Linked DNA regions of Homo sapiens. The protein of the gene in region 2 purifies or fractionates together with the protein of the main gene of each other region. This does not show direct contact. Each region holds a gene or a part of one and is shown on either strand. Other genes may lie near its edges.

Region 1 (7,071 bases), on a different chromosome or scaffold from region 2:
TACACTATCTATGATGTAAACGCGTCCTTTGGTGTGATGCTTTTGTGCAGTGCACTACATACTCAATCTTAAAAGGTCGCCCTGTGCATGATCTCCGAGTCCACAAAATAAATACAGCTGCAACTATTATCCTTGCAGAGTGAGTGCCCCACTCAGGACCCCACAATGAACCCAAACCTTGTCACTTCCCAGCTCACCTCGAAGGAGGTGAAAGTGATCTGGGTACAGGAGCTTGAAGCCGAAAAGGGTGAGGATCACTTCTACAGAGAAGGAGCCTCGGTCCACAAAGTCACCATTAAATATCTGTCCTGCTGAGGAAAACATGGCAAGCGTGGAGGGGAAGGGTGCGGTGCGGTGGGGTTGGGGGTGGTGGCAGAAGATGGGCCAGATGGGCTGCTCCTGCCTGGCCTCAAGCCTCCTGTCAGCACCTCCCAGGGAGTGAGGACTTGGCAGGGCTCAAGGGATCTGGGTTTCTAATCCTTTCCTCACCGTGGCTCCAGCCAGAGCTTGGCCGCTGAGCCTCAGTAGTATGGCACTGAGGACCCTGCCTCCTGTCTCCCGGAAAGCCAGTGGCGGGGAGGTGCGGGGACTAGTCAGTCCACCTCCTTCAGCTCTCCTCAGAGAGGCCTGGAGCCATGGGGGAGATGGGACACGGGCCCTCCCACTCAACAATGCATAGGCCTAGTGGCCCTACAAGTGGCCGTTCATCGAGCAGATACCATAACACGGGGAAATACTTAGATAGCATCAGGTGTGGGCCAGGCCCTGTTCTTAACCTGTCCTCTCAGTAACTGCTGAGTAACAAGGTTGCACATATTATTATCCCTCTTTGCAAATGGGGAAACTGTGACACCAAGCAGTGAAGTAACCTGCTTCGGTCACACAGCTGGGAAGTGGCAAAGCCAGGATGGAACCCAAGTGTGGCCAGTGCCAGGTGCCATTCAAATGTGATCCTGAGGCAGACGAAGACAAGCCAAGACCCAGAGAGACTGAGCTACCAGCTTAGGTCACACAGCAGGTGGGTGCTGGCCCAGGCCTGTCCGAGCCTGGAGCCTGGGGTGCATGGCCAGCCTGCAGCTCCACCCACACCTTGGTGCCCCAGCATGGCCAGGCCTCTCCTTTCCAAGGTCACGTCTTTTCCTGGCAAGGGCTCCTCCCACTCTGTGCAGACCTGAGGCTGCGGCTGGGGGTGGAGGTGGGGAGAGGGTGGCTCTGCTGAGAAGGATACATAGGGGTTGGTCTCCGAGGGTAAACCGTTGAGCTCGAATATGTTGAGGAGGTCATAGAACTGGCCATGGGTGTCCCCACATACTGTAATCTTCTCTGTCTGAAAGAAAAGAGGCCACCGGAGAGGGACGGGCCGAGAGAGAGACGTGGGGAGGGGGCAGAGGTGAGGGGAAGGGTAAGAGTTCACAGTAGACCAAGAAGAATCATGCAAGAGACACAAGCAGGGAACACAAACGAAGACCAAGAGGCCAGGAGAGAAATGGGATATTCAGGAGGAAAGGCACAGGGGTGGGGTGTGAGGGAGAGAGGGAGGTGGATCCGTGAGTTCCTGAGCTCTGTGGCCCCTCCCCAGCCAGAGAGCCCACCCCCGCTGGCCCTCCCCGCACTGCCCCACAACGCGCACCTCTTTGAGTGTGGTTTCCACGAGCGTGCTCAGCTTGGAGAGGACCTCTTTGACCTGTACCAGAATCTGGAAGGCAGGGCAGACTCAGTGGGACCGGCTGCAGGGGCTGCTGCCCAACCTGGCCCCGAAAGCCTGGACTGCCCATGAGACGCTGCTGGGCTGAGGGCGAGGGAGAAGCAGGGAGAGAAGAAAAAGGGCAGGGCAGGCCTGGGGGAGCGGGAGCAGGCGGGGCCGGAGGCAGCCGCAGGCTTCTGTGGCCTGTGCAGTGCCGAAGCATTGCGATTGTTTTGTACGAAAACCTGATTCTTGAATTATCTTAAAATACTCAGCATCAAGTGGAAATACATGCATGAATCCAGATCGTAGAACATTTTATAAAAGAACTGGCCTGGACACAGCGCAATGTCACTGTCATAAAAGAGTCTCCCAAAAAAGAAGTGAGACTTTCTAGGTAAAAAGAGGTAAAAAGGCAGGTCATAGGCAACACTGGTGCTTTCAACGGACGCTGAATTTTTTAAAAGCAGCTAAAAAGGATGTTTTGGGGAGAGCTGGGGAGAATTAAAATACTAATAGATGTCTAGAAATGCAGATGATTTATTTTTCACAGATTGGATATGACCTTGACAATGACATGCATATTTGTCAATGTTTCCAGATTTTCCGGATGGCCTGTGGACTGTCTACCTTAGTCAGTATTATCACATCAATGATGAATTTCTAAGGTAGGACAATTCAACTGTGGTCACACAAGAGGACGTCTTTGTTTTTGGGAGATCCAGGTTATGATGGCTGCAACTTACTTTCAAATGGGTTAGGGGAAAAAAAAGAAAAAAGTATACACATACAAATGCATAAATAAGTAGACAGACACATAAAGTTAATGCATTAAAATGTTCACAAGTGGTGAATCTGTGTGAAGGGTGGACAGATGTTAACTGTACTGTTCTTTCAGCTCTCTGTAGGTCTGACGATTTCCAAAATAAGCTGGGGAAAAAGGTGTTAAGAAAATGCAGGCGGCATCCACTTCTAGTCAGAAGGTAGAAAAGTTACAAAAGACTGTCTCGCCCTAAAGATGAAAACAAGCCAAACAAGCAACAAAATCAAAGGTAAAGCCATCTGAGAGCTGGCAATGCAAAGGGACCTAAATTAATCAAAATGCAGACAGGACGAGCCCTTCCTTGGGGAAGGAGCCCACAGCTTTCACCCTGGTGCGAGGCAGCAGGGCGGGATGCCCTGCGTGAGGGGAAATGAGTGGAAGTTCATGACCGTGTGGGGACTGGCGTGACAGATGAGGACTCCAGGGAGCCCCAGCACAGCCCGCCTCTGCCCCCTGCCAACTCCCTCACACGGGCTTCATGGAAGGTTGGGCGCGAGGGAGTGAGGTGCAGAGAAACCTCCTGAGGTACAGAAGTGGGGGCGAGACTGGAGAGCGGAGAGCACCCCAGTGGCCCCACAGTCTGGCGGCAGGGCTGAATACCAGAGGCCTCCCACAGTTCCAAAAGCTGGCGACTTTAAAACATAAAGACATCCCTGGAATTCTGCCAGGGCTAAGATCCCAAGCTCTGCTGAAGGGAAAGTCCTAATTCTACTCTGAACACATTTAAAGCCGGTGGTAAAGAAACTCCAATAAAAGCTGCCCCTAAACTACAGATGAGGTTCACACAGCCCCTCCCTCTTGTGGCTCAACAGGAGAAATGTGTGCCATTTTCTTATTTGTTTATTTGTTTTAAGACAGGGTCTCACTCTGTCACCCAGGCTGGAGTGCAGTGGCTCGAACACAGTTCACTGCAGCCTCAACCTCCCAGGTTCAGGTGATCCTCCCCACTCAGCCTCCCAAGTAGCTAGGACTACAGGTGCCAACCACCATGCCTGGCTAATTTTTGTATTTTTTTTGTAGAGGTGGGGTTTCTACAAGTTGCCCAGGCTGGTCTTGAACTACTGGGCTCAAGCGATCTGCCCACCTTGGCCTCCCAAAGTGCTAGGATTACAGGCCTGAGCCATGGTGCCCAGCCTAAGTGTGCCATTTTCTGAGGAAAAACTTTATTTACCTCAGTCTCTAATGTTCTTTTATACAAAATAGCTGGCATACAATAAAATTGTAAAACACATGAAGAACTGGTAACAGAGCAGACTCAGAGATGAACCAGATGATGGAACTATCAGACAGAGACGTTAAGATAACCATGGTAAATGTGTGAAAGGACTTGGTGGAAAAGGTGGACAACATGCATGAACACATGAGACACAGAGATGAAAAGTCTATTAAAAAAAACACAACTAAATGAAAATGCTACCAATAAAAAATACAATGTAAGAAATAAATAATTCATTTGTTGGGCTTGACAGCAGTTACAAAGAATCAGTGAACATAAGGACAACTGAAATTATCTGAACTGAAATACATAGAGGAAAAATCGTGAAAAGAATTAAAAAAATTCAGGTCATTAAGATCTAAGGAATAGTATCAAATAGTATCAAAGAGCATGTTATTAGCTTTCCAGACGGAGAGGAGAGCAGAAATGGGAAGAAATATAAGAAATAATGGCTAAGAACTTTCCAAAACTAATGAAAGATATTAACCCACAGACTCAAAAAAAGCACATCAAAGCCCATCATAGTCAAACTACTAAAACCCAAAGGCAACATCTTAAAACCAGTGAAGAAAAAAGCAGACTATATAGAACAAAGATATGAATGATTGCTGAGTTCTCACAGAAACAATGGAGGTCAAAAGGCAATGGGAAAAAAACACATTTAAAGCCTTGAAAGAAACAATGTCAACCTAGAACTCTACATCCAGCAAAGACACCCCTAAAAATGAAGACAAAATAAAAACATTTTCAGGCAGACCAAAGCTGAGAGAATTAGTCTACAGCAGACGTGCACTGTAAGAAATGCTAAAAGTACTCAGGCAGAAGGGGCATGATACCAGATAGAAACTCACATATGGAAGAAGAAACAAGGAGTAAGAGAAAGGGTAAATATAAAAGACATTTTCTGTGTATTCATACGTGTATTTCTTTAGAAGACTAGTGTCTATTTAAGGAAATGACAACAATGTATTTATAGCAGATGCATAAGCATGACAAGAGCACAAAGGCTGGGAGAAAATAAAAGCAATCACAATATTGTAAGATTCTTTTTTTTTTTTTCTTTTGAGATGGAGTCTCGCTCTGTTGCCCAGGCTGGAGTGCAGTGGCACGACCTTGGCTCACTGCAACCTCCACCTCCTGGGTTCAAGTGATTCTTCTGCCTCAGCCTCTCGAGCAGCTGGGATTAGAAGTGTGTGCCACCATGCCTGGCTAATTTTTGTATTTTTAGTAGAGACAGGGTTGTAGAGATGGGGTTTTTGCCATGTTGACCAGGCTAGTCTGGAACTCCTGACCCCAAGTGATTCACCTGCCTCGGCCTCCGAAACTGCTGGGATTACAGGCATGAGCCACTGCCCCAGGCCATAAGATTCTTATATTGTCCATTAAGTATCATATTATTATTTGAAAGTAGAATAGGACAAGTTAAAGTTACACATTGTAATCTTTGGAGCAGCCTTTTTCATCCAGGGTTCCGGGAAATGATTAAGCCCCACAAAAAATATTTTCAGTGATATCTGCTCAGTTCTCCCAAGGAGAGCACACAGATTCACAGGAGAGGAGTTAATTCACTGCGGATATAATGGATGCCTAAGGGAGTTAGGGCTTAATTCTCTCTATAGAGCCTCAGCTGAGAAGGGCTGCTCTAGAGCAACCATGTAACACTCCACCCCTCGCCACACACATTCAAAAGTATAACAAAAAATTCAATAAAACAGATGAAATGCTAAAAGATTCCTGATTCACACAAAAGAAAGTCAAAGAAGGAGAAACAAGGGGGAAAAAAACAAATGGGACATATAGAAAAGAGACATCTAGACAGTAGATTGAAATGCAATCATATGATTGCTGATAGTTAAACATAAATGAACTAAACACTCCAATTAAAAGGTAAAGATTGGCTGGGAATGGTGGCTGACACCTGTAATTCCAGCACTTTAGGAGGCCGAGGTGGGTGGATTATCTGAGGTCAGGAGTTTGAGACCAACTTGACCAACATGGTGAAACACTGTCTCTATTAAAAATACAAAAATCAGGCCAGGCATGGTGGCTCATGCCTGTAATTCCAGCACTTTGGGAGGCTGAGGCAGGTGGATCACGAGGTCAAGAGATCGAGGCCATCCTGGCCAACATGGTACAATCCCATCTCTACTAAAAATACAGAAGTTAGCTGGGCATGGTGGTGCACACCTGTAGTCCCAGCTACTCGGGAGGCTGAGGCAGGAGAATCACTTGAATCTGGGACACAGAGGTTGCAGTGAGCTGAGATTGCGCCACTGCACTCTACCCTGGTGACAGAATGAGACTCCGTCTCAAAAAACAAAACGAAACAAAAATTAGTTGGGTATAGTGGCGTGTGCCTGTAATCCTAGCTACTCTGGAGGCTGAGGCAGGAGAATTGCTTGAATCCAGGAGGCAGAAGTTGCAGTGAGCCAAGATCACACCATTGCACTCCAACCTGGGCAACAAGAGCGAAATTCCACCTCAAAAAAAAAAAGGTAAAGATTGTCCAACTGGATAAAAAGGCAAGACCCAAGTATATGCTGTTTATAAGAAAAACATTTTAAATATAAAGATACCAATGGGTTAAATACAAAAGGGTAGAAAAGTTATAGCATGCAAATATTAACTGTAAAAATCTGGTTTAACTATTTTAATAGAAAACAGGGATTTCAAGCCAAAAAGTACTGAAGTCACTTCATTATAATGAGTCAATTCATCAAGAAAGCATAACAATCCTAAATGTGTGCCTAATAAAAATTTCAAAATACAGGAAGCAAAAAACTGAGAATTATAGGGAGAAATAGGCAAATCTACAAGTATAGTCGGAGCTTTTAACAGCCCCCTCAATAAATGATTGAGCAATTAGAAAAAATAGGCTATAAAAGATTTTTAACAGCAGTCTCAACCATCTTGAACTAATTGACATTTATAGAGCCCTATGACTAACGACTGCAAAATACACACTATTTTCCAGTACATACTGCATGTTTGCCAAGACAGATCTAAAAATAGCCCCAATGGAATCATCCAGAGTGTGTTGTCTGACCAAATTAGAAATCAGTAACAGTAACATCTAGAAGTCCCCAAATATTTGGGAGTTAAACAATACCCTTCTCAATAATCTATGGATAAAATCAGAAACCATAAAGAAAATTAGAAAACAATTCTAACTCAATGATAATGAAAATACGACGTATTAAAATTCACGGGACGCAGCTAACTTACTGCCTGGAAGGAAATTTAGTTTTAAATGCTTTGTGTGGAAGAAAAGATGTAAAATTAACAGCATTAATGTCCATCTTCAGAAGCCAGAAGAAAGCAAATTAAACCTCAAGCATGCATAGAGAA
Region 2 (7,214 bases):
ACTAAACGGCATATATTATTTTTAAAAGAATATTTTAGCTGGTCTCTTCAAAACACTTGTTTCCCCCAGCCCAACACTCTTCAAGTGGCATTGAATCACTCGTTTTGAAGGTAGCATTTTTTCTTTTCTTTTTTTTTTTTTTTTTTTTTAAGACAGTCTCGCTGTGTCGCCCAGGCTGGAGTACAGTGGCGCAATCGCCGCTCACTGCAAGCTCCGCCTTCCGGGTTCAAGCCATTCTCTTGCCTTAGCCTCCCAAGTAGCTGGGACCACAGGCGCCCGCCACCACACCCGGCTAATTTTTTGTATTTTTAGTAGAGACGGGGTTTCACCGTGTTAGCCAGGATGGTCTCGATCTCCTGACCTCGTGATCCACCCGCCTCGGCCTCCCAAAGTGCTGGGATTACAGGAGTGAGCCACCCCGCCCGGCATGAAAGTAGCATTTTTATTTTTTAACTAGAGAGGCTACTTTTTGGAATAGTCTCTCTACTGCTACACTTACTTTTTTTTTTTTTTTTTTTTTTTTGAGACGGAGTCTCCCTCTATTGCCCAGGCTGGAGTACAACGGCGCAATCTCTGCTCACTGAAACCTTCACCTCCTGGGTTCAAGCGATTCTCCTGCCTCAGCCTCCGGAGTAGCTGGGACTACAGGCATGCACCACCACACCCAGCTAGTTTTTGTATTTTTAGTAGAAACGGGGTTTCACCATATTGGCCAGGCTGGTCTCTAACTCCTGACCTCGTGTTCCGCCTGCCTCGGCCTCCCAAGTATAGGGATTACAGGCGTGAGCCACCGCGCCTGGCCTTACACTTACTTTTCACCCAAGTTTTTAAATCTACTTTCCTAGTAATAGCCGTTCCTTACCTATTTAAATATCTCATGTGGCCTCCATCAAATGCTTCTACTTCAAGCCAATTTTAAACATACTTTTCGCGAAAAGATATGTTGTTTGGCTCTATTATTAAAAGCTGCTTAATGCCTCATCTGACAAAAAATTTCCCCTTACAGATTTTCAGAGTATGAAAGGTTAAGACTGATGTCCCTTCTACATTACTTAGGAGAGCTTTCAAATAGAAAAGCAAAAACTATTTTATATACATTCAAATTTATTTATTTATTTTGAGACGGGTTTTCACTCTTGTTGCCCAGGCTGGAGTGCAATGGCATGATCTCGGCTCACCGCAACCTCCACCTCCCAGATTCAAGCGATTCTCCTAACCTCAGCCTCCCGAGTAGCTGGGATTACAGGCATGTGCCACCACGCCCGGCTAATTTTTTTTGTATTTTTGCAGCGACGCGGTTTCTCCATGTTGGTCAGTCTGGTCTCGAACTCCCGACCTCAGGTGATCCGCCCGCCTCGGCCTCTCAGAGTGCTGGGATCACAGTTGTGAGCCACCGCGCCCAGCCTAATTCAAATTTTTTAAAACCCCGATTACGTATCACTTTCGGGGAGGGGGCTCCTTCAAAAATTCTAACATGCTGTGCTCTAGAAGCTTGTTCCCAGTGATAAACTCGCTTCAGCCTCACGCATCCCTTTAGATTTCTAGCCAATATACTCAGCCTCAGTATCATGACTTGAATCAAGCAAATCCTTATTACTTTTCCAAAGACATAAAGTCACTCCCCTCTTCTCTCTTCTGAATGGAGTCTAAAACAAAAGAAAAAAAAGGTTCCACCTTAATTGTTCTCCATACCTTTTAGGACGTAGTTAGTACCTTGAAAAATAACCTCCCGTCAAAAAAAAAAAAAAAAAAAAAAAAACCCTGTAAAACCGGCAGTTCCCACTGTACGCGGCAGTGCCAAGAATTCTTACCGGTTAAAATCGCCAAGGCTTTCCTTTATCATCGTAAAATGAAGACTGCCATAGAATCTGTATTCACCTCCACACAAATTTAAGATCTTTGGGACGACTGTAGGTTAATTAAATGCCTACTACATACCTATTTCATCCTACACTGTAACAAGATAGTGAAACCTCACCTCAAGTAGAACATGAAACACAGAAAATGTCCGTATCTTTCCAAAGTCGACACGTGCGGAACTACCTGCTCAATGGTAACTCCTCCTCGCTGCCAGGGAAGCGGCTGAGTTTTGGCAACCTCCCGTGTTTTCAAGAGACTGGAGTTAGGAGGCGGACTGGAAGTACCCACACTCAAGAAACCCAGACACTGGAGAGGGAAGTATGTTGCGGCGTGGGCATGGCTTCCTTCTAGTTGCCTAGCAGTACCTGCAGCTCACGGCGAGGTCCGCGTGGGGCTCTCCCAGGAGCTCCGCCAGGCACCTGGCGGCACCCACCACAGGTGCACTCGACTCAGGGCCTGGCCCCGGGACCACAAAGCAACAGAACCGGAGCGCCCAAGCAGCCGAGAGGCGACCCACGAAGGTTCACGCTTCAGGGCGCCGCATGGCGAGCAGCTACCGGGAGCTTAAGGCCTAGGGTGAAGTTACCGAAAGAGGCGAGTAACCCAGACAGCCAAAGGGGTAAAAGTAGGATTTCCGGCATGGGGAAGCCAAGGAACGGTTCAGGGGTGGGGGAAGCAGACATCTGGAGGAAAAATGTCCTCCACCCGCCAACGGTAACCGGAACAAGGATCCTGGACCTCCCGCCCCCAGGCAGGAACGACTGCCACCACCGATGCGAGAAAGGCTAGGGGGCCGCTTCCAGGGAGCCCCCAACGCGGCCTCGGCCTCACTCGGCGACCTTCCCTCGGCGGGGTGTCGCACTCACATTGTGAACGGGGCAGGGGGACGGGCGAACTGGTGGGCGGGCCTCTCTGGCGGCGGCTGCTGCTAGGGAGTCGACTTCTCTCCGGTGGCGACTCCGCTTTTTCTCTCCGGTCGCGGCCTCTTCTCGCTTCCCTCAGGCGACGGCGGCAGCGGCGGGCTCGACCTCGGGCCCCAGAATGCACCGCGCGGAAAGAGCGGCTCCTCCGGTCGGGGAGAAGAGGAAAGTGTAGGAAAAGGGGCGCGAGGACGGAGAATGAACGTGCGTGCGTGCAAACGAGGGGTGGTGAGGCCGGGCGGCGGCTGGTGACGCAGCAAAATGCCCGGGCCTTGCCGCCGCGCGTGCGCAGTCCTTGTTTTTGGGCTCCGGCGCGGCTTTCTAGAGATATCTACGGAAAGGGCGGGGCCTCCCAGCTCCTTCGCGATCCTTCCTGGCGCCGGCCCCGCCCTTCGTCCGCCACCCCACCCCCACTCCGCCCCCTGCTAGTCCCTACGCGTTCCCGCCTCTCCTCCCGCTCTGTCTTCTCGCGTTAGAAAACCGTTAGTGGCCCAACTGCCCTGCCATGCGCCTTCGGCGATTTCTCTGAGAAACGGTTGCGTTGACAGTGGGAGGCAAGGCTGAGGCGGAGGGACACGGAGTCGGGATCCTGGAGAACTGAAATGGCGCGTTGGTTACTCTTGAGGGAGTAAATCAGCTCACTGAGTCATCATTCCACCACAAAAACCTGTAAAAAGCCTGTGCTGTGGAAAAGGGCTCACTTCAGAATCAAGGGCCTGGGTCCACCTCGCCATTTTTCTGAAGGTTGGAGGCTCTGTCCAGGGACAGCGGAAATTCGAGGTTCTTGGCGGAGGAGGAGCATTTGCCAATTGGGGCGGGCTTTTGCCCCTACCTTGAGACCTTAGTGCTGTAGATGAGCCAGGAAAGGTATTTGAGGGGAGAGTCTAGGTTTCTGGGAATGGAGAGAGTAGGACATTGTGTGTTTCCACGCACATCGTTTGGGGGAGAAGGGGTTCCCCGTCGCTTTGTGCAACATATTAGTAGGGTGTAGTAGGGGTAGCAACCAAGAGACCCAAAACAGTCCTGCTTAAGAAGAAGCCGCTTAACGGTGGATTGGGGAAAAATACTCTAGTGCGCTGCATTTTGAACAGGAAGGAGGTTTAACGAAAGTGCTATAAAACCTTTCTGAAGAACGGGGCTTCATAATAAGCACTAAGGTATTTAGTGTCTGTGTTGTGCAGGACAGGTAGTGGGAGCTACGAAACCTGGACCCTAGCTCAAATGCCATTAAAAAGGGAAATTGGGCGGGGCGCCCGTGGCTCACGCCTATAATCCCAGTACTTTGGGAAGTTCGGTGGGCGGATCACCTGAGGTCAGGAGTTCAGGACCAGCCCACCCAACATGGTGAAACCCCATCTCTACTAAAAATACTAATTAGCAGGGCGTGGTGGCACTTGCCTGTAATGCCAAATACTAGCTAGTATGAGGCGGGAGGATAGCTCGAACCCCGAACCCGGGAGGCGGAGGTTGCAGTGAGCACTCCAACTTGGGCGACAGAGTGAGACCCTGTGTCAAAAAAAAAAAAAAAAAGGGAAGGGGCCGGGCGCGGTGGCTCACGCCTGTAATCCCAGCACTTCGGGAGGCAGAGGCGGGCAGATCACGAGGTCAGGAGATTGAGCCCATCCTGGCTAACATGGTGAAACCCCGTCTCTACTAAAAATAAAAAAAAATCAGCCGGGTGTGGTGGCACACGCCTCTAGTCCCAGCTACTCGGGAGAGCGAGACAGGAGAATCGCTTGAACCCGGGAGGCGGAGGTTGCAGTGAGCCGAGATCGCGCCACTGCACTTCAGCCTGGGCGACAGAGTGAGTCTGGGTCTCAAAAAAAAAAAAAAAAAAAAAAGGAAGTTAACTTGGCGCACTGGTTCACGCCTGTAATCCCAACACTTTGGGAGGCCGAGGCCAGTGGATTACTGGAGATCAGGAGTTCAAGACCAGCTTGGCTAACATGGTGAAACCCCCGTCCCTACTAAAAATACAAAATATTTGGCCAGGAGCAGTAGCTGACGCCTGTAATCCCAATACTTTGGGAGGCCGAGGCGGGCGGATCACGAGGTCAGGAGTTCAAGACCAGACTGGCCAACATGGCAAAACCCCATCTCTACTAAAAATACAAAAATTAGCTGGGCGTGGTGTGCCTATAATCCCAGGTACTCAGGAGTCTTAGGTGGGAGAATCTCTTGAACCCGGAAGACGCAGGTTGCAGCGAGTCTAGATTGTACCACTGTACTCCAGCTTGGTGACAGTGAGACTCTGTGTAAAAAAAAAAAAAAAAAAAAAAAAAAGAAAAGAAAAAATAGGTCACAACCAAATAATGGTGGCACTGAATGTCAGGCTAAATTTTTTTTTTTTTTTATGTTTTTGAGACAGGGTCTCACTTTAACTCAGGCTGGAGTGCAGTAGTGGTATCACAGGTCACTGCAGTCTTGACTTCTGGGTCCAATTGATCCTCCTGTAACGACTGAATTTAAATATATGTCCAGAGTCACAAATTGCAAAAGAGAACTTTATAGACTGATTTGAGCAATTAAAAAAATTGTTAATTGAAGGTGAGAACAATCCTATTTTATAAGGGGGCTTTCTAATAAGATAACAACTTAGAAGTTGTTAATTTTGTATTAGGAAGTCAAAGGGAAAGGGTGCAAAATGGTAAAAATGTCTCCTGGAGGCCGGGCGCGGTGGCTCACGCCTGTAATCCCAGCATTTTGGGAGGCCGAGGCGGGCGAATCACCTGAGGTTGGGAGTTCGAGACCAGCCTGACCAACATGGAGAAACCCCATCTCTACTAAAAAACACAAAATTAGCCGGGCGTGGTGGCGCATGCCTGGAATCCCAGCTACCAGGGAGGCTGAGGCAGGAGAATTGCTTGAACCCAGGAGGTGGAGGTTGCAGTGAGCCGAGATCATGCCATTGCACTACAGCCTGGGCGACAAGAGCAAAACTCTGTCTCAAAAAAAGAAAAGTCTCCTGGGTATAGGGAATAAAAATTGGGCCGGGCGCGGTGTCTCATGCCTGTAATCCCAGCACTTTGGGAGGCCAAGGCAGGTGGATCACCTGAGGTCAGGAGCTCAAGACCAGCCTGGCCAACATGGCAAAACCCCATCTCTACTAAAAATACAAAAATTAGCTGGGCGTGGTGGCAGGCGCCTGTAATCCCAGCTACTTGGGAGGCGGAGGCAGAATTGCTTGAACCTGGGCGGCAGAGGTTGCAGTGAGCCGAGATCATGCCATTGCACTCCAGCCTGGGTGACAAGAGCGAAACTCCATCTCAAAAAAAAAAAAAAAAAAAAAAAAAGACGGGGCACGCGTGGCTCACGCCTGTAATCCCAGCACTTTGGGAGGCTGAGATGGGTGGATCATGAGGTCAGGAGTTCAAGACCAGCCTGGCCAAGACGGTGAAACCCTGTCTCTACTAAAAATACAAAAATTAGCCAGGCTTGGTGGTGGGTGCTTGTAATCCCAGCTACTTGGGAGGCTGTGGCAGAACCTGTGAGGTGGAGGTGGCAGTGAGCCGAGATCTCCCCACTGCACTCCAGCCTGGGTGACGAGACTCTGTCTCAAAAAAAAAAAAAAATTGGCCATAAACCTTAAAAGAGATATTATGACCCAGCTTAATATAAACATTACTAGTAGCCACCTGTAGTCCCAGCTACTTGAGAGGCTGAGGTGGGAGGATTGCTTAAGCCCAAGAGTTCAAGTCCAGCCTGGGCAACGTAGGGAGACCCTGTCTTTGAAAAAATAAATTTTTTTTTTTTTTAGATGGAGTCTCTGTCGCCCAGGCTGGAATGCAGTGGCACGATCTCTTTTTAGTAGAGACGGGGTTTCACCATGTTCACCAGGCTGGTCTTGAACTCCTGACCTCAGGTGATCTGCCTGCCTCGGCCTCCCAAAGTGCTGGGATTACAGACGTGAGCCACTGCGCCCAGCAAATAAAATCATTTTTAAAATTACTTATGTTTTAGGCCAAGCATGGTGGCTCATGCCTGTAATGCCAACATTTTGGGAGGCCAAGGTGGGAGGATGTCTTGAGGCCAGGAGTTCAAAACCTGCCTGGGTGGCCATGAGCAGTGATTCACACCTGTAATCCCAGCACTTTGGGAGGCTGAGGCAGGTAGATCATCTGAGGTCAGGAGTCAAGACCAGCCTGGCCAACATGGTGAAACCTCATATTTACTAAAAATACAAAAATTAGCTGGGTGTGGTGGTACATGCCTGCAGTCCCAGCTATTTGGGAGGCTGAGGCAGGAGAATGGCTTGCACCCAGGAGGCAGAGGTTGCAGTGAGCCAAGAATGCACCACTGCACTTGCCACTGTACTCCAGCCGAAATGACAGAGCGAGACTCTGTCTCAAAACAGAAACAGGCCAGGTGTGGTGGCTCATGCCTGTAAGCCCAGCACTTTGGGAGGCCGAGGCGGGTGGATCACGAGGTCAGGAG
Region 3 (7,996 bases), on a different chromosome or scaffold from region 2:
TGGGCCATTTTGTGCCAGAAAGCAAGAAAACTATCAAAGATTAATGTGACCACATCTACAATACATAGGAACCAACTCAAATAATTTCTCACTGGCCAAAAGTGGGACGATTTGAGCATCAAAAAGAATAATTAATGCACTTCAAATATATGAAAATACATATATTCATGATCATTTTTTTAAAAAAGCTCATTAGAAGTTGCTAGAGCACTAACTCATTATTTTGAAAATTGATAAATGAAAAGAAACGTGGACCCTATCTTTCATCTACAAACTATATTTCAGGATAACCAAAGAGTTAATGAAAAATGTTATGGTAGAATTCCAGCTAATAAATTTAGGAGGAATGTTAGAATTAGAAATTCATTATTTTGCAACGTCTAATGAAATACTGGATTGAGTCACAATTAATGGATGCTAAAATAATCAGGTGATGTTTGATGAAAAACGTAATGTAGGAATCAGGCTGACACCACCTCAACCCATGAGCAATATTTCGTCATTAAAATGCAAGTATCAGACATATGTGCCTCATGATGTGATGTAATAGGAAATACACGGCAACTACCACAAAGTATGCTTACCTAAAATATAGAACCTCAATCTAATAAAAATCCTAAATCTACCTATTTGCAGAAATAGGAGTAATATCACAAGGAAGTAATCAGCTAAATCTAGAATATGGGACATTCCGTAGTACAAATGGCCTAGTTTCTACAGTAAATCTATAGTATGAAGGGTGAGATGCTGGTAAAATTGAGTAAAAGGGACTTAAGAAATATGACAATTTGTGATGGTATTAGGTGGGGCGGGGTGGAGGAAGAAACAACTAAGTGCAATGTATGGACTTGTTTAGATCTTGAATTGAATAAAGCAACTGTAAACAGAATCTTTGATATAATCGAAAAAAATTTAATACTTGGAGGATGATGGATAGTATTGAGATTTTTCTTAATTTTGTGTGATAATGGCATGGTGGATATGATTTTTGAAAGTTCTTATCAGATGTGCATATTGAAGTTGGGATATGCTTTATAATACTTTAGCAAAAAAAGTGGGGGACATAGTAGGGAGGAGGGTAGGGAAGAATTGTCTATCAACAAATGTTGATAATTGTTGAAGCTGATAACTGTTGAACTCATTAGGGCTGAGGTTGATTATACTATTATCTCTCTTTTTGCATATGTTTAACTTTTCCCACAAGAAAATGTTACAGGAAAAATTATTTAGCTTTCTCCAACCTGGGTTGGTATAAGTCACTGATTGTGACTATCCCAAAAGTTGGTTCAACATTAAGGTAATGTTTGTTAGGAAAAAAAATTAGATCGACACGTTATTTAGTATCCCAGGTTTTTGAGCATTTATTTAAAAAATTCGCTATAATGAGAGATGATTATAAATTTTTGTTATATTTCTGAGATGATCAATTTTAACAGGATTGGTGGTAATTTTTCAATCATAAACTGATAAAGTTTGATGACTGATAAATCGCCCCAATATATAGCAAATCTATTCAATTATTTTGTTTTCATAAGGGAACAACCTTGGTGGAAAGTACAGCTGTCTCCATGTACAAGGAGAAGCACATAGCTCACGTGTGCATCTGGCAGAACCCCCAGTACAGAGACAAGCAGGTGCTGTTTTCCAATGACACCTACTTGTGTGTGTCCTAATACTATAGTTAGAAAATGGCTCAGATTTTTGAGTTGCTTTTCCCAGAACTCAAAGATTGTCTTCCTGTTTATCTTGGTGGAATGCCTATGCTATACTTGTGATTTTTCTGTTCTCTGTAACCTATTAAAACAAGATTGTCACAGATGGGGAAACAAGAGGTCATTAGTTAACAATCAGATGTTCGATTTCTTGAGCAGAAAAGATACTCTGTTGTGTTTTTAAAAACATTTTTAAAGGAGAAATAGGGCTACTCCTTGGAAGGCAGATTGTTGTTCAGTGGGCTTTCCTCAAGAGTCAACACAGTCGTTTCTAAATTCATTTCCTCCTTCAATTCTGTTCTTGTAGTTAACATAAGCTTTGCCTCTTTTAGTTCTTGTCAGTTCACAGTGGCTACTTCTTTATAGCTTAACTAAATACTGCCAGAAGAGCAAAGGGAAGCCAAATAGGTGGTCAATTAGCTTTGTCTAAGTTGGTATGATATGGAGAGGAAAGCACTGTTACTTTAATTCATTCTTCAGTTTCTAGAACAGTTGCTTTTGATTAGGTTAGGGGCAGAAAAACATTTGTAATAATTAATGGCTTTGAGAGACACAAGGCTTTGTTTGCCCCAGAGTATTAGTTAACCCACCTAGTGCTCCTAATCATACAATATTAAGGATTGGGAGGGACATTCATTGCCTCACTCTCTATTTGTTTCACCTTCTGTAAAATTGGTAGAATAATAGTACCCACTTCATAGCATTGTATGATGATTAAATTGGTTAATATTTTTAAAATGCTTAGAACACAGATTGGGCACATAACAGCAAGCACCACATGTGTTTATAAGATAAATTCCTTTGTGTTGCCTTCCGTTAAAGTTTAAATAAGTAAATAAATAAATAAATACTTGCATGACATTTTGAAGTCTCTCTATAACATCTGAGTAAGTGGCGGCTGCGACAATGCTACTGGAGTTCCAGAATCGTGTTGGTGACAAGATTGTTCACCAGCATATGGTGTGGTGAAAACTCACTAATTTGGAATTAGTTCAGATTATTAAGCCTGAATAGGTGAAAATCCTGAAATCAAGGATCTTTGGAACTATTTGAAATCAGTATTTTATATTTTCCTGTTGTATTCATTAAAGTGTTGCAAGTGTTCTATTTGATGGATTAAGTATATTTAGGATATACATGTTCAATTTGTGATTTTGTATACTTAATTGGAACAAGAAAGCTAATAAAGGTTTTGATATGGACATCTATTCTTTTAAGTAAACTTCAATGAAAATATATGAGTAGAGCATATAGAGATGTAAATAATTTGTGGACACACCACAGACTGAAATAGCAAATTTAAAAGAAATTGTTGGAAGAATCAAGTGTTTGTGGAATGAGTCCTCCTAGTAAAGTTCCTGCTCTTGTGAATAATTAAGCCTCATGTATAATTACTATAGCAAAAGGAAGCCTAAGAAGTATTAGACTCTACTTGTATTTAAATTACATTTTACATAATTTATGTGTATGAAAAATGTTTTAAATGCTTATTTTCGTAAGCCATGAGATAGCTCCTTTATATTTTAAGAATTTCTGAATTAATTTGCTTGGATTTTATTAGTGCAAATGGCAGAGCTAGCAATTCCTTTTTCTGTGTTCCCATTCCATCCTATTCATCCCTCTTTTAGGAAACTCTGAACTCTGGATTGTCCTTGTTTACATACCTGCCTCCTGCATTGGACTATGTGTCTCTGAGTGTAGTATGACTAATTCATTTGTTTGTCAAGGACTCTCAATGCATTTGTTGAACAGCCTAATTAGTAATGTCTGCAACAATGACATTTTACTGTATTTAATAAAGCTCTGGGAAAGTAGGATACACATAAGACAGGTCTAGGTCTAAATTCTTTACAGAAACTTGGATTTTTAGTTCGGTTTGAAATTTGAAGATGTGAGTATATTTATCTCAGTTTCCCAAAGGACAAGCTAATTGGAATTATCATCCTCTTTCACTTGATTGGATCCCCAGAATGCCATTTACGCATGCAGCAGGATTTTATAACAGTTTTAAATTCTGTATATTTGATGAAGAGGTTTTATATTTTTGGATTCAAGCCTCTTTTTAAACTTCTACAATATGGTTTACAATAATTCCTTATATCCTGCTTTTGAAATACATATTACAACTTTTTAAGTTTGGAAGGCTATATTTCAAGGACTGAAGTTACAGTATACTCAAGTGATACACAAGCCTAGCACCCCACTTTCCACATAGTGTTCGATAAAGATTGATAAACTCGAAATCACAGACCTTTTAATTCTTAAGACAAATAGCAGCAGAAAGAAACATCTTTGGCTTATTTCTGGTAAGGTTTTTATGCTCTGTAAAACAAAGAATTGTATTCATCCGCGCAGCACAGATTCTATTAAAAATAAATGTGAGAGTCGTTAATGTAGTACTGCTCATTTACCATCAAAATTCACTTTTCAGGAATAATCCCATCAGTTTAAATTGGATATTGGAATGAGCATTGATTACATTTAACTTGGTAGCCCAAAATTTCTTCATGGGGTTTTGAACTCGGCGGGATTTCAAAGGTTTTAAAAATGAGTTTTTGATTTTTTTTAAAACCCTCAAATTTCATTACCTTTAAACTAGGTCGAAACGGGGCGCAAGAGATTGGATTAACACCATAGTAATACTTATTTTGTTCTTAACCATTTCAGGGCTTCTTGAAATAGAGGCTGTATGGTGTAATGGAAAAAACAGCCTTGGAATCTGGGAGCCTGATTCCTGGATTCAGTCCCAGTTTTGCGTGACCTTGGGCAAGTTACTTTACTTCTCTGAATTTCCGTTTCCTCCTCTGCAAAATGAGGATCGCAATAGCCACCTTGCAACCTTGACTGGAGCGAGCCTCGCACACCCCGCGCCGGCCTGGAGGAAGAGCAGCCATGATTACGCCGCCTTCGCTCCGCTACCCGCTTGCGGCTGGCGCCCTCCTCCAGCAGGTGTAGGCGCTGCCGCGCTGCCCCACGCCTTTCCGCCGCTCGCGGGCCTGCGCCTCGGCGTCCCCGAGGAGGCCGCTGCGGGCTGAGGTAGCGCACCGGCCTCTCGGCGTCCCAGTCCGGTCCCGGGCGGAGGGAAAGCGGGCGACCCACCTCCGAGGCAGAAGCCGAGGCCCGGCCCCGCCGAGTGCGGAGGAGCGCAGGCAGCCCCCGCCCCTCGGCCCTCCCCCCGGCCCTCCCGGCCCTCCCTCCGCCCCCTCCGCCCTCGCGCGCCGCCCGCCCGGGTCGCCGCGGGGCCGTGGTGTACGTGCAGAGCGCGCAGAGCGAGTGGCGCCCGTATGCCCTGCGCTCCTCCACAGCCTGGGCCGGGCCGCCCGGGACGCTGAGGCGGCGGCGGCGGCCGAGGGGGCCGGTCTTGCGCTCCCCAGGCCCGCGCGCCTGAGCCCAGGTTGCCATTCGCCGCACAGGCCCTATTCTCTCAGCCCTCGGCGGCGATGAGGCGCTGAGGCGGCTGCCGGCGCTGCGCCGGAGCTTAGGACTCGGAAGCGGCCGGGCCGAGGGCGTGGGGTGCCGGCCTCCCTGAGGCGAGGGTAGCGGGTGCATGGCGCAGTAACGGCCCCTATCTCTCTCCCCGCTCCCCAGCCTCGGGCGAGGCCGTCCGGCCGCTACCCCTCCTGCTCGGCCGCCGCAGTCGCCGTCGCCGCCGCCGCCGCCGCCATGGCCAATGACAGCGGCGGGCCCGGCGGGCCGAGCCCGAGCGAGCGAGACCGGCAGTACTGCGAGCTGTGCGGGAAGATGGAGAACCTGCTGCGCTGCAGCCGCTGCCGCAGCTCCTTCTACTGCTGCAAGGAGCACCAGCGTCAGGACTGGAAGAAGCACAAGCTCGTGTGCCAGGGCAGCGAGGGCGCCCTCGGCCACGGAGTGGGCCCACACCAGCATTCCGGCCCCGCGCCGCCGGCTGCAGTGCCGCCGCCCAGGGCCGGGGCCCGGGAGCCCAGGAAGGCAGCGGCGCGCCGGGACAACGCCTCCGGGGACGCGGCCAAGGGAAAAGTAAAGGCCAAGCCCCCGGCCGACCCAGCGGCGGCCGCGTCGCCGTGTCGTGCGGCCGCCGGCGGCCAGGGCTCGGCGGTGGCTGCCGAAGCCGAGCCCGGCAAGGAGGAGCCGCCGGCCCGCTCATCGCTGTTCCAGGAGAAGGCGAACCTGTACCCCCCAAGCAACACGCCCGGGGATGCGCTGAGCCCCGGCGGCGGCCTGCGGCCCAACGGGCAGACGAAGCCCCTGCCGGCGCTGAAGCTGGCGCTCGAGTACATCGTGCCGTGCATGAACAAGCACGGCATCTGTGTGGTGGACGACTTCCTCGGCAAGGAGACCGGACAGCAGATCGGCGACGAGGTGCGCGCCCTGCACGACACCGGGAAGTTCACGGACGGGCAGCTGGTCAGCCAGAAGAGTGACTCGTCCAAGGACATCCGAGGCGATAAGATCACCTGGATCGAGGGCAAGGAGCCCGGCTGCGAAACCATTGGGCTGCTCATGAGCAGCATGGACGACCTGATACGCCACTGTAACGGGAAGCTGGGCAGCTACAAAATCAATGGCCGGACGAAAGTAAGTGTGTGCTGCGGGTTTGTGCTGGACAGGCCCTTCTCGGCGGGCAGCCCCTGCCTGCGACTGAAACTGCCTAGGCTGAGAAGCAGCATTCCTCTATATAGAAGGGACTCGCTCTTTCTTGTGTAGCTCCCCGTAAGGAAGACGGACAGAATTTGTAGTAGCTGTTTATCTAGTTAGCCCCTTTGTATCCACTGTTTTCCACTTACTGCCCGTTCACAAACTTCTCCGGCTAATTGCATGGTTTTTTGACTCAACGTAGGCGCTTTAACTTTCCTATTTTCTTTTTTCCATTCCACTATTGGTCACAATTCAAACCTTAGTGGCGTTTTAGCCACCCAGTGAAGGGGTGTTAGAGTACCACCCAAAGCAAGTCCTGGTTCTGCATCTGCCTTGTGTTTGCATAAGCTGTTAAATTTCCTATGGTGTCTGAACCACTCATCACATTTCGATTGAGAGTCAAACGCTGTGTTCAGTTAGGAATTTGCCGGCTGACCGCAAAAAGGTACATTTAAAATAAGCATTTAGTCGAAAGACTCTGTATTCAGGAAGAGCTTGGCTACTCCCCTCCCCCTGTTATAGCTCTTATCCCTCACCCTGTTCCTACTGTTTTGAAACCCGTTACAAAAAGGGGAAAGAAGTATTTCCGTCTTCAGGCCTCTCAGTGTAGGTAGGCTACATTTTTAGCACCAGTTTCCTTTATTTGCTTTGTTAATGTAATCCTTCTGTTGAAAACTGTTTTGTAACTTCCTGGAAAACAAAACAAAACAAAACAACAACACGGAATTGGCGCAGGAGGGCTCGTTTTATCCTCCCAATTTGGTGAGATCTTTTTGTTTTCTCTTTACTATTGCGGTTTTTCCTCCACAGATTTCTTCACTTCTTACCTAGTCTATTCCCTCTTTCCTCCCTCATGATAAACAGTAGACTCTTTCGTCCTTAACCAACTCTCTTGCAGCTCTTTTTCATTTTACTTCTCAGATCTTGATCTTTTCTTTGTGGCTGCTCCCAGGCCACCCTCCTCCACCATCAGTCTCTGATTTTGTGGGTTTTGAGAGATTGACCTGGGAGAGCATCACAGTTGCATGTTTGTACACACACGCTGACTCTAACTAGTGGTTTTTCTGTATGTGTGTGTCAGATCATCTACTTTGACAGTCATTACATGTGATTCTCAGGCTGCCCGAAAGACTGAACATAGGCAGTGAGAAAGTTATAAACGTGAACATTTTGTGGGGAAAAATACAATGTGGAGTCTAATTTACCTATTGCCACTTCATTGCTGGATGAAGGCACAAGTCTTAATTTCTTGTAGTCTTAAAAAGGAACAGTTGAATAATATTAAACTGGAAGGAAAAGGGGGATCTGATGAAATTTCAGCGTTGGTCTTTCACTAGATTTTCATTGATAAAATTTTTAAGAAAGTTGTCAGGGCACAACTTTAAGAAATTGTCACATCTGAACATAAAGTCCTGAGCTCCAGAGCAGGAAAGAAATTAGTTTGAGACAATAGGGCTGTGAAGACTGACCAAAGTATATAGTTGGGACATAAGCTTAAATTGGATTCTTGAAGAAGATGATGTCCCAAATCTTTCTTGATCTGCTTTCCTTAGTTAATTTAGCTTTCCAAGTTAAGCTGAGACCTCTTTTCTCTTTTGTCTTCCTGCTTTCACCTGTCCTTAGAGAAGGGACAGCAGACAGCCTGGCTCTTAGAGCAAATGCTTCTCATA

The links. The genes of interacting proteins can lie anywhere in the genome.
Region 1: the proteins of PTGES3 (region 2) and PPP5C purify together in Homo sapiens (affinity purification with mass spectrometry; 5 studies listed by BioGRID and IntAct, with this or other methods). This does not show direct contact.
Region 3: the proteins of PTGES3 (region 2) and EGLN1 purify together in Homo sapiens (affinity purification with mass spectrometry; 5 studies listed by BioGRID and IntAct, with this or other methods). This does not show direct contact.

Annotation. Positions count from the first base shown.
Region 1 is NC_000019.10:46,378,036-46,385,106, reverse strand, and holds part of PPP5C (serine/threonine-protein phosphatase 5), read right to left. Parts: exon of another isoform or gene 2,583-7,071; intron 1,697-2,582; coding exon 1,631-1,696; intron 1,328-1,630; coding exon 1,229-1,327; intron 304-1,228; coding exon 198-303; intron 1-197. UniProt on the Homo sapiens protein: Serine/threonine-protein phosphatase that dephosphorylates a myriad of proteins involved in different signaling pathways including the kinases CSNK1E, ASK1/MAP3K5, PRKDC and RAF1, the nuclear receptors NR3C1, PPARG, ESR1 and ESR2, SMAD proteins and TAU/MAPT.
Region 2 is NC_000012.12:56,685,272-56,692,485, forward strand, and holds the start of PTGES3 (prostaglandin E synthase 3), read right to left. Parts: upstream 3,014-7,214; 5' UTR 2,729-3,013; coding exon 2,727-2,728; exon of another isoform or gene 1,993-2,726; coding exon of another isoform or gene 1,979-1,992; intron 1,647-1,978; exon of another isoform or gene 1,612-1,646; coding exon of another isoform or gene 1,598-1,611; intron 1-1,597. UniProt on the Homo sapiens protein: Cytosolic prostaglandin synthase that catalyzes the oxidoreduction of prostaglandin endoperoxide H2 (PGH2) to prostaglandin E2 (PGE2).
Region 3 is NC_000001.11:231,419,268-231,427,263, reverse strand, and holds the start of EGLN1 (egl nine homolog 1), read left to right. Parts: upstream 1-4,976; 5' UTR 4,977-5,375; coding exon 5,376-6,266; intron 6,267-7,996. UniProt on the Homo sapiens protein: Cellular oxygen sensor that catalyzes, under normoxic conditions, the post-translational formation of 4-hydroxyproline in hypoxia-inducible factor (HIF) alpha proteins.